2 linked regions of the Homo sapiens genome follow. The gene in region 1 interacts genetically with each later gene. Each region holds a gene or a part of one and is shown on either strand. Other genes may lie near its edges.

What was found.
Region 2: changes in POLD1 (region 1) and COPS4 together harm fitness more than expected from each alone (negative genetic interaction), as found in Homo sapiens cells (one large-scale study listed by BioGRID).

What each region holds. Positions count from the first base shown.
Region 1 is NC_000019.10:50,390,718-50,394,537, forward strand, and holds part of POLD1 (DNA polymerase delta catalytic subunit), read left to right. Parts: intron 1-3,820. UniProt on the Homo sapiens protein: As the catalytic component of the trimeric (Pol-delta3 complex) and tetrameric DNA polymerase delta complexes (Pol-delta4 complex), plays a crucial role in high fidelity genome replication, including in lagging strand synthesis, and repair.
Region 2 is NC_000004.12:83,041,590-83,045,409, forward strand, and holds part of COPS4 (COP9 signalosome complex subunit 4), read left to right. Parts: intron 1-3,820. UniProt on the Homo sapiens protein: Component of the COP9 signalosome complex (CSN), a complex involved in various cellular and developmental processes.

The sequences.
Region 1 (3,820 bases):
CTGCGGCCTTCCGCAGTGTTTGTGTCCCTGGGTACTTGAGATTAGGGAGTGGTGATGACTCTTAAGGAGCATGCTGCCTTCAAGCATCTGTTTAACAAAGCACATCTTGCACCGCCCTTAATCCATTTAACCCTGAGTGGACACAGCACATGTTTCAGAGAGCACGGGGTTGGGGGTAAGGCCGTAGATTAACAGCATCCCAAGGCAGAATTTTTCTTAGTACAGAACAAAATGGAGTCTCCTATGTCTACTTCTTTCTACACAGACACAGCAACAATCTGATCTCTCTTTCCTTTCCCATTTCCCCCTTTTCTATTCGACAAAACCGCCATCGTCATCATGGCCCGTTCTCAATGAGCTGCTGGGTACACCTCCCAGACGGGGTGGCGGCCAGGCAGAGGCGCTCCTCACATCCCAGACGGGGCGTCGGGGCAGAGGCGCTCCCCACATCTCAGACGATGAGCAGCCGGGCAGAGACGCTCCTCACTTCCTAGACGGGATGGCGGCTGGGAAGAGGCGCTCCTCACTTCCCAGACTGGGCGGCCAGGCAGAGATGCTCCTCACTTCCCAGACGGGGTGGCGGCCGGGCAGAGGCTGCAATCTCGGCACTTTGGGAGGCCAAGGCAGGCGGCTGGGAGGTGGAGGTTGTAGCGAGCCGAGATCACGCCACTGCACTCCAGCCTGGGCACCATTGAGCACTGAGTGAGCGAGACTCCGTCTGCAATCCCGGCACCTCGGGAGGCCCAGGCGGGCAGATCACTCGCGGTCAGGAGCTGGAGACCAGCCCGGCCAACACGGCGAAACCCCGTCTCCACCAAAAAATACAAAAACCAGTCAGGCATGGCGGTGCGTGCCTGCAATCCCAGGCACTCAGCAGGCTGAGGCAGGAGAATCAGGCAGGGAGGTTGCCGTGAGCCGAGATGGCGGCAGCACAGTCCAGCCTCAGCTCGGCATCAGAGGGAGACTGAGAGGGGGGAGGGGGAGGGGGAGGGAGAGGGAGAGGTCTTTTTTTTTCCCACTCCCCCGCTCTTGTTGCCCGGGCTGGAGTGCAATGGCGCAATCTTGGCTCACTGCAACCTCCGCCTCCCAGGTTCAAGCGATTCTCCTGCCTCAGCCTCCCAAGTAGCTGGGATTATAGGCGCCCGCCACCATGACAAGCTAATTTTTGTATTTTTTTTAGTATAGACGGGGTTTTCACCACGTTGGCCAGGCTGGTCTTAATCTCCTGACCTCAGGTGATCGGCCTGCCTCAGCCTCCCAAAGTGCTAGGATTACAGGCGTGAGCCACTGCACCTGGCCCATCATTTTACTTTTTTAATCCAAGTTCTAACCTAGGATAACACACATTGTCATGGCAACTTTTTCATTTTTTAAGACATGTCTTGCTCTCTTGCCCAGACTGTATTGCAGTGGTGCAGTCATGGCTCACTGCAGCCTTCACCTCCCAGGTTCAAGTGATCCTCCCACCTCAGTCTCCCAAGTAGCTGGGACTGTAGGTATGCACCACCATGCTTAAGTAATTTTTAATTTTTTGTAGAGATTGACTAATTTTTAATTTTTTGTAGAAATGGAGTCTCACCATGTTGCCTAGGCTAGTTTCTAACTCCTGGCCTCAAGTGATCATCCCACCTCAGCCTCCCAAAGTGTTGGGATTACAGACGTGAGCCTCCTAGCCCAGGCAACTTACTTTTTCATGACATCGACAGTTTTAAAGATTACAGACCAGTGTTGTCACCCCTCACCTTGGATTCGTTTGTTTCTTTTTCTTGTTTTGTTTTGAGACAGAGTCTTGCTCTGTCACCCAGGCTGGAGTGCAGTGGCGTGATCGCAGCTCACTGCAACCTCTGCCTCCCAGGTTCAAGTGATTCTCCTGCCTCAGCCTCCCAAGTAGCTGGTATTACAGGCACCCACCACCACGCCTGGCTAATTTTTGTATTTTAGTAGAGATGGGGTTTCACCATGTTGGTCAGGCTGGTCTGGAACTCTTGACCTCAAGTGATCCACCCTCCTTGGCCTCCCAAAATGCTGGGATTACAGGCGTGAGCCACTGCACCCAGGCTGTTTGTTTCTTAATGACTAGAATCAGGGTAAACGTTTTCTTAGACATTGTTTTTCAACACAAAAGATAAAATTGTGAGTGCACCACTGTGCATCTTGCTTTATCTACTGAACAATGCCTCTTTGAGAACCTTCCCTATCAGTACACAAAGAGCTTCCTCATTCCTTTACACAGTTGCATAGTATTCCATTGAACGGACTTAACATATTTAAATAGCCCCCTGGGGGAGGACAGTTAGGTGGTTTCCAGTCCTTGGGGATTTCAAACGATGCTTCCGGAAATAACCTTATAAATGCAGTTTTTCTTATGTGATAATATATCTACAGTGTACGTCCCTAGATGTGGAATTGAGCCTCCAAACTTTTATGTTTATAATTGAGGTGGCATTTACATGGCGTGCCATGCCCAGGTCTCCAGTGTACAGTCAGCTGTATAGTGTGTTTTATCACCCCAGAAACCCCCTCATACCCTTCCCAGTCTCTCCTACCCTAGGAGCAGCCACTAGTCTGATTTCTAGCGCTGTAGATCACTTTAGTGTATTCTACAACTTTGTCTAAATGGTATTGTACAATTTTTATGGAGGTAAAATTAGCCATTTTAAAGCAAACAATGGCTGGGCGTGGTGGTTCATACCTGTAATCCCAGCACTTTGGGGAGGCCAAGGCAGGCAGATCACTTGAGCCCAGGGGTTTCAGACCAGCCTCAGCAACATGGCAAAACCCGTCTTTACCAAAAAACAATTGGCTAGGCATGGTGGCACGCATCTGTCTTCATAACTACTCAGGAGGCCAAGGTGGGAGGATCACCTGAGCCCGGGAGGTCAAGGCTGCAGTGAGCTGAGATCATGCCACTGCACTCTAGCCTGGGCAACAGAGTGAGATCCTGTCTCAATAAAGAGAGAAAGTAATAATAAAGCAAAGAATTCAGTTGGTACGTTCACAGTGTTGTACAACCATTACCTCTGTCTAGTTTCAAAACATTTCATCACCCCTACAGAAAACCCCATACTCCGTAAGCAGTCACTCCTCATTCCCCCAGTGTGCACTTTGCCTTCTGCACAGCCTGCTTTCAAGATTCATCCGTGTTGCATGTCTGTCAGGAGCTGGCCCCTCTCTAATGCTGAGTGTCTGTTATGAACCTCCCTGAACATTTCTAACATATACTCCATCAGTTCAGAATTTTTCCATGCTTATTTCAGGTCTAAGCTGTTGTACCAAGGAGCCCCCAAAACACAGTGGCCCAAGAAAGATACAAATTGATTTCTCCACATAACGCTTTGGAAGATAGGCAAGTGTGCAGGGTTGGCAGACAGCTTTGCTCTGGAAGGTTGTTGGGGAGCCCAGTGTTGTCCCTGTCCTTGTGGTTGGCTCTCCCACTACATCCATGTTCCAGCCACTGTGACGGGGAAGAGGGTGGGAGGATGTCCCAGTAGCTGCACACCTCATGATCACTCTCATTCCTGGAGGGAGAACTTAGTCACGTGGCCCTCCTGGCAGCGCACACTGGGAAATGTAGCCTTTGGCTGGGCAGCCTGTGGCCACTCCGGACACGCAGGGTTGGAGGGGTGTGTTCTATTGCAAAAAAGCAAAGCAAAGCCGGGCGCGGTGGCTCACACCCATAATCCCAGCACTTTGGGAGGCCGAGGCGGGCGGATCATCTGAGGTCAGGAGTTCCACACCAGCCTGGCCAACATGGTGAAACCCCATCTCTACTAAAAATACAAAAAAAAATTAGCGGGTATGATGGTGGACGCCTGTAATC
Region 2 (3,820 bases), on another chromosome or scaffold:
CCGTGTAGCTGGGACTTACAGTTGTGCACCATCACACTCGGCTAATTTTTGTATTTTTAGTAGAGATGGGGTTTCTCCGTGTTGGCCAGGCTGGTCTTGAACTCCTGGCCTCAAGCGATCGTCTTCCTTGGCCTCCCAAAGTGCTGGGATTGCAGGTGTGAGCCACTTCACCTGGCCTTACTCTCTTTTGAGTTAATATATTACCTCTTCATTTATCATATTGCTTATATTGTTCAGTTTTATCATAACTTTTGTTTTTGTATTATTGTAATTTAATACTTTTTTTTTTTTTTGAGATAGAATTTCGCTCTGTCACCCAGGCTGAAGTGCAGCAGCGGGATCTCAGCTCACTGCAACCTCTGCCTCCCAGGTTCAAGTGATTCTCGTGCCTCAGCCTCCCGAGTAGCTGAGATTACAGGCACGTGCCACCACACCTGGCTAATTTTTGTATTTTTAGTAGAGATGAGGTTTCACCATGTTGGCCAGGCTGGTCTCGAACTCTTGACCTCAAGTGATTGGCCCACCTCAGCCTCCCAAAGTGCTGGGATTACAGGCGTGAGCCACCGCACCTGACCATATTGTAATTTAACACTTGACATATTAACTTTTTATTTTTAATCTTCCCCTTTGTCTTCTCAGCCATATGATCTTCAAATACAAAGGTCATTTAAAAACTTTTTAGTATCATACACAGAATCTCATATAGCATCTTAAAATGCCTAAGGACTCAATTAACACCTTGGGGTGATTTTATATGGCAGTATTAAATTTCTGTTTAAGTTCCTGGTTTAAAACAGGTTTGTTAGTCATTTTATGTTATTCTGAAAAAGTAATCTCTGTTGTTAGATACTAGAATTTACATATTAGAGAAGCAAGGGAGCATGTAATGTAGCCACAGTGCTGTACCTCACTTTTTTTAATTAATTAATTTTTTTTTTTTTTTGAGACAAGGTCTTGCTCTGTCCAGGCACACGCCACCACAGCTGGCTAATTTTTGTAATTTTTTTTTATTTTTAAAATTTTTATTTTTGAGATGAGATATCACTCTGTTGCCCAGGTTGGAGTTGCAGTGGCAAGATCTCAGCTCACTGCAACCTCCACCTCCTGGGCTCAGGCAATCCTCCCCCCTCAGCCTCCCAAGTAGCTGGCACCACAGGTGTGTGCCACAATGCCTGGCTAATTTTTTTATATTTTTGGTAGAGATGAGGTTTTACTATGTTGCTCAGACTGGTCTCGAACTCCTGAGATCAAGCCATCTGACTGCCTTGGCCTCCCAAAGTGCTGGGATTACAGGCATGAGCCACCACGCCCAACCAATTTTTGTATTTTTTTTTTTTTTTTGTAGAGATGAGGTTTCACCACATTGCCCAGGCTGGTCTTGAACTCCTGGACTCAAGTGATCTACTTTCTTTGGCCTCCCAAAGTGGTAGGATTACAGGCATGAGCCACTGCGACTGGCCCTCAATTTATTCATTTATAAAATTGGGAGTTTATGTACACAATTTCTAAGGCCTCTATAAGTTATATAATTTGATGAGTATAAAACTTTGATCACTTTTTAGGTTGGTTTATTTTCATTTTTTCTTCCTATTCCCAATACAGATTAGTTGATTGATTATGAAACTATGTGTTAAAACTTAGGTTAGGCCAGGCACAGTGGCTCAAGCCTGTAATCCCAGCACTTGGGGAGGCTGAGTTGGGAGGATTGCTTGAGTCCAGAAGTTGGAGACCAGTTTGGGCAATGTAGTGAGACCCCATCTCTACAAAAAGAAAAGAACAGTTAACCAGGGGTCGTGGCACATGCCTGTAGTCCTAGCTACTCAGGAGGCAGAAGCAGGAGGATTGTTTGAGCCCAGGAATTGGAGGTTACAGTGAGCTATGATCATGTCACTGCACTCTAGCCTGGGCGACAGAGTGAGACCCTGTCTCAAAAAAAAAAAAAAAAAAAAAAAAAAAACCATAACAACCACAAAACAACTTAGGTTAATTAGCAAATTTATATAAGTGAGACACTATTACCTTTGAATATAATGTTGTTAGTATAAAATAATCTAAGAGGATATAAAAGTAAGAGATCTTAGCAATAACCCTTGATTTAATTAAATATGAAAAAAATAAAAAATAACAAACCATTGAATGTATAACTTATCTGAAAGCATGCCCAGGGCCATAAAGTAATTTATCTTTTAAGGACCCTCAAACTTAGCAATATTGAAAATATAATTTTCTAAAAACTTAATATTTCCTTGCTTTCTTAGAATAATTTATTTCTTCTTTTGGAATTTGCTATCTTTTCTATCCGTATATCTGCTTTCTTAAAGTCACTTTGATTCATTGTGGTTTTGAGAAATCAGATAACCAAGGTTGTGAGAATTTTGTATGAGTTGAGAGTCAGTAATGCTGAGTGGTAGCTTGAGGGTGTGCCCTACAAAATAAAAGTCATAAATCTGAATGAGTTCAGGTTCTATTTTTGTATATTTATTTCGTAACTCTATTCTGGATGACTTTCCGAATAATTGCAATGCTATGAGGTTTGTAAAATGTATTTAGTGCTTTTAAAAAATATTACAATTGGCTGGGCGCGGTGGCTCACGCCTGTAATCCCAGCACTGTGGGAGCCCGAGGTGGGCGGATCACCTGAGGTCAGGAGTTCAAGACCAGCCTGGCCAACATGCGGAAACCCCATCTCTACCAAAAATACAAAAATTAGCCGCACTTGGTGGTGCATGCCTGTAGTCCTCGCTACTCTGGAGGCTGAGGCAGGAGAATTGCTTGAACCTGGGAGGCGGAGGTTGCAGTGAGCCGAGATTGCGCCAGTGCACTCCAGCCTGGGTGACAGAGCAAGACTCCATCTCAAAAAAAAAAAAAAAAAAATGATTAAGACAAAAGAGATAAAGATTAGTATAGGCCGGGCACGGTGGCTAACGCCTGTAATCCCAGCACTTTGGGAGGCTGAGGTGGGCGGATCATGAGGTCGGGAGTTTGAGACCAGCCTGACCACATGGTGAAACCCCATCTTTACTAAAAATACAAAAATTAGCCAGGCGTGGTGGCGCATGCCTGTAATCCCAGCTACTCAGGAGGCTGAGGCAGGAGAATCGCTTGAACCTGGGAGGTGGAGGTTGCAGTGAGCCAAGATTGCGCCACTGCACTCCAGCCTGGGTGACAGAGCGAGACTCCGTCTTCAAAAACAACAACAACAACAACAACAAAAGAATAGTATAACACTCATATACTAACCACTCGTTAAGAAATAAAACATTACTAATACCGTTGAATATTTGAGTGCTTATGATGTGCCAAGAATTGAGATAATTGTCTACATAGCAGAGAACAAAACACAAGAATTCCTGTCCTCGTGGAGCTTGTGTGGTCACAGATATTAGGTAGAATAGTTATTAGATCTGAATGCAAATAAAGAATAAATAGGTACTGTCTGACAGCATAAATGGTATTCTATCAGTGCATTTGGCTTGGCGAAGTTTATTTTGTACAGACTAAGACATTCAGTCTTTAATGTTTGGTTTCGTTGCCTGGTCAACATTATCCTATTGCTGGTGACCCTACATACATTACGTCTGTAAGAGGAAAAGATTCAGGTCACCTCAAATAATGTTTTTGTGTGTCTATGTATTGCACAGTTGAAGGAAATATAGCTTATCTTTTAAGGCATTTGAAAGGAAATTGACTTTGTAGTTTAAATTCAAAAATAAAACCTTCAAGAAAAAGTGACACCTTAGATTCAGTAACAGAATTATAGATTCATTCTTTCTTGTGATGAGCTTGAAAACTTAAAAAATTCTGGTATACTATACTGAAA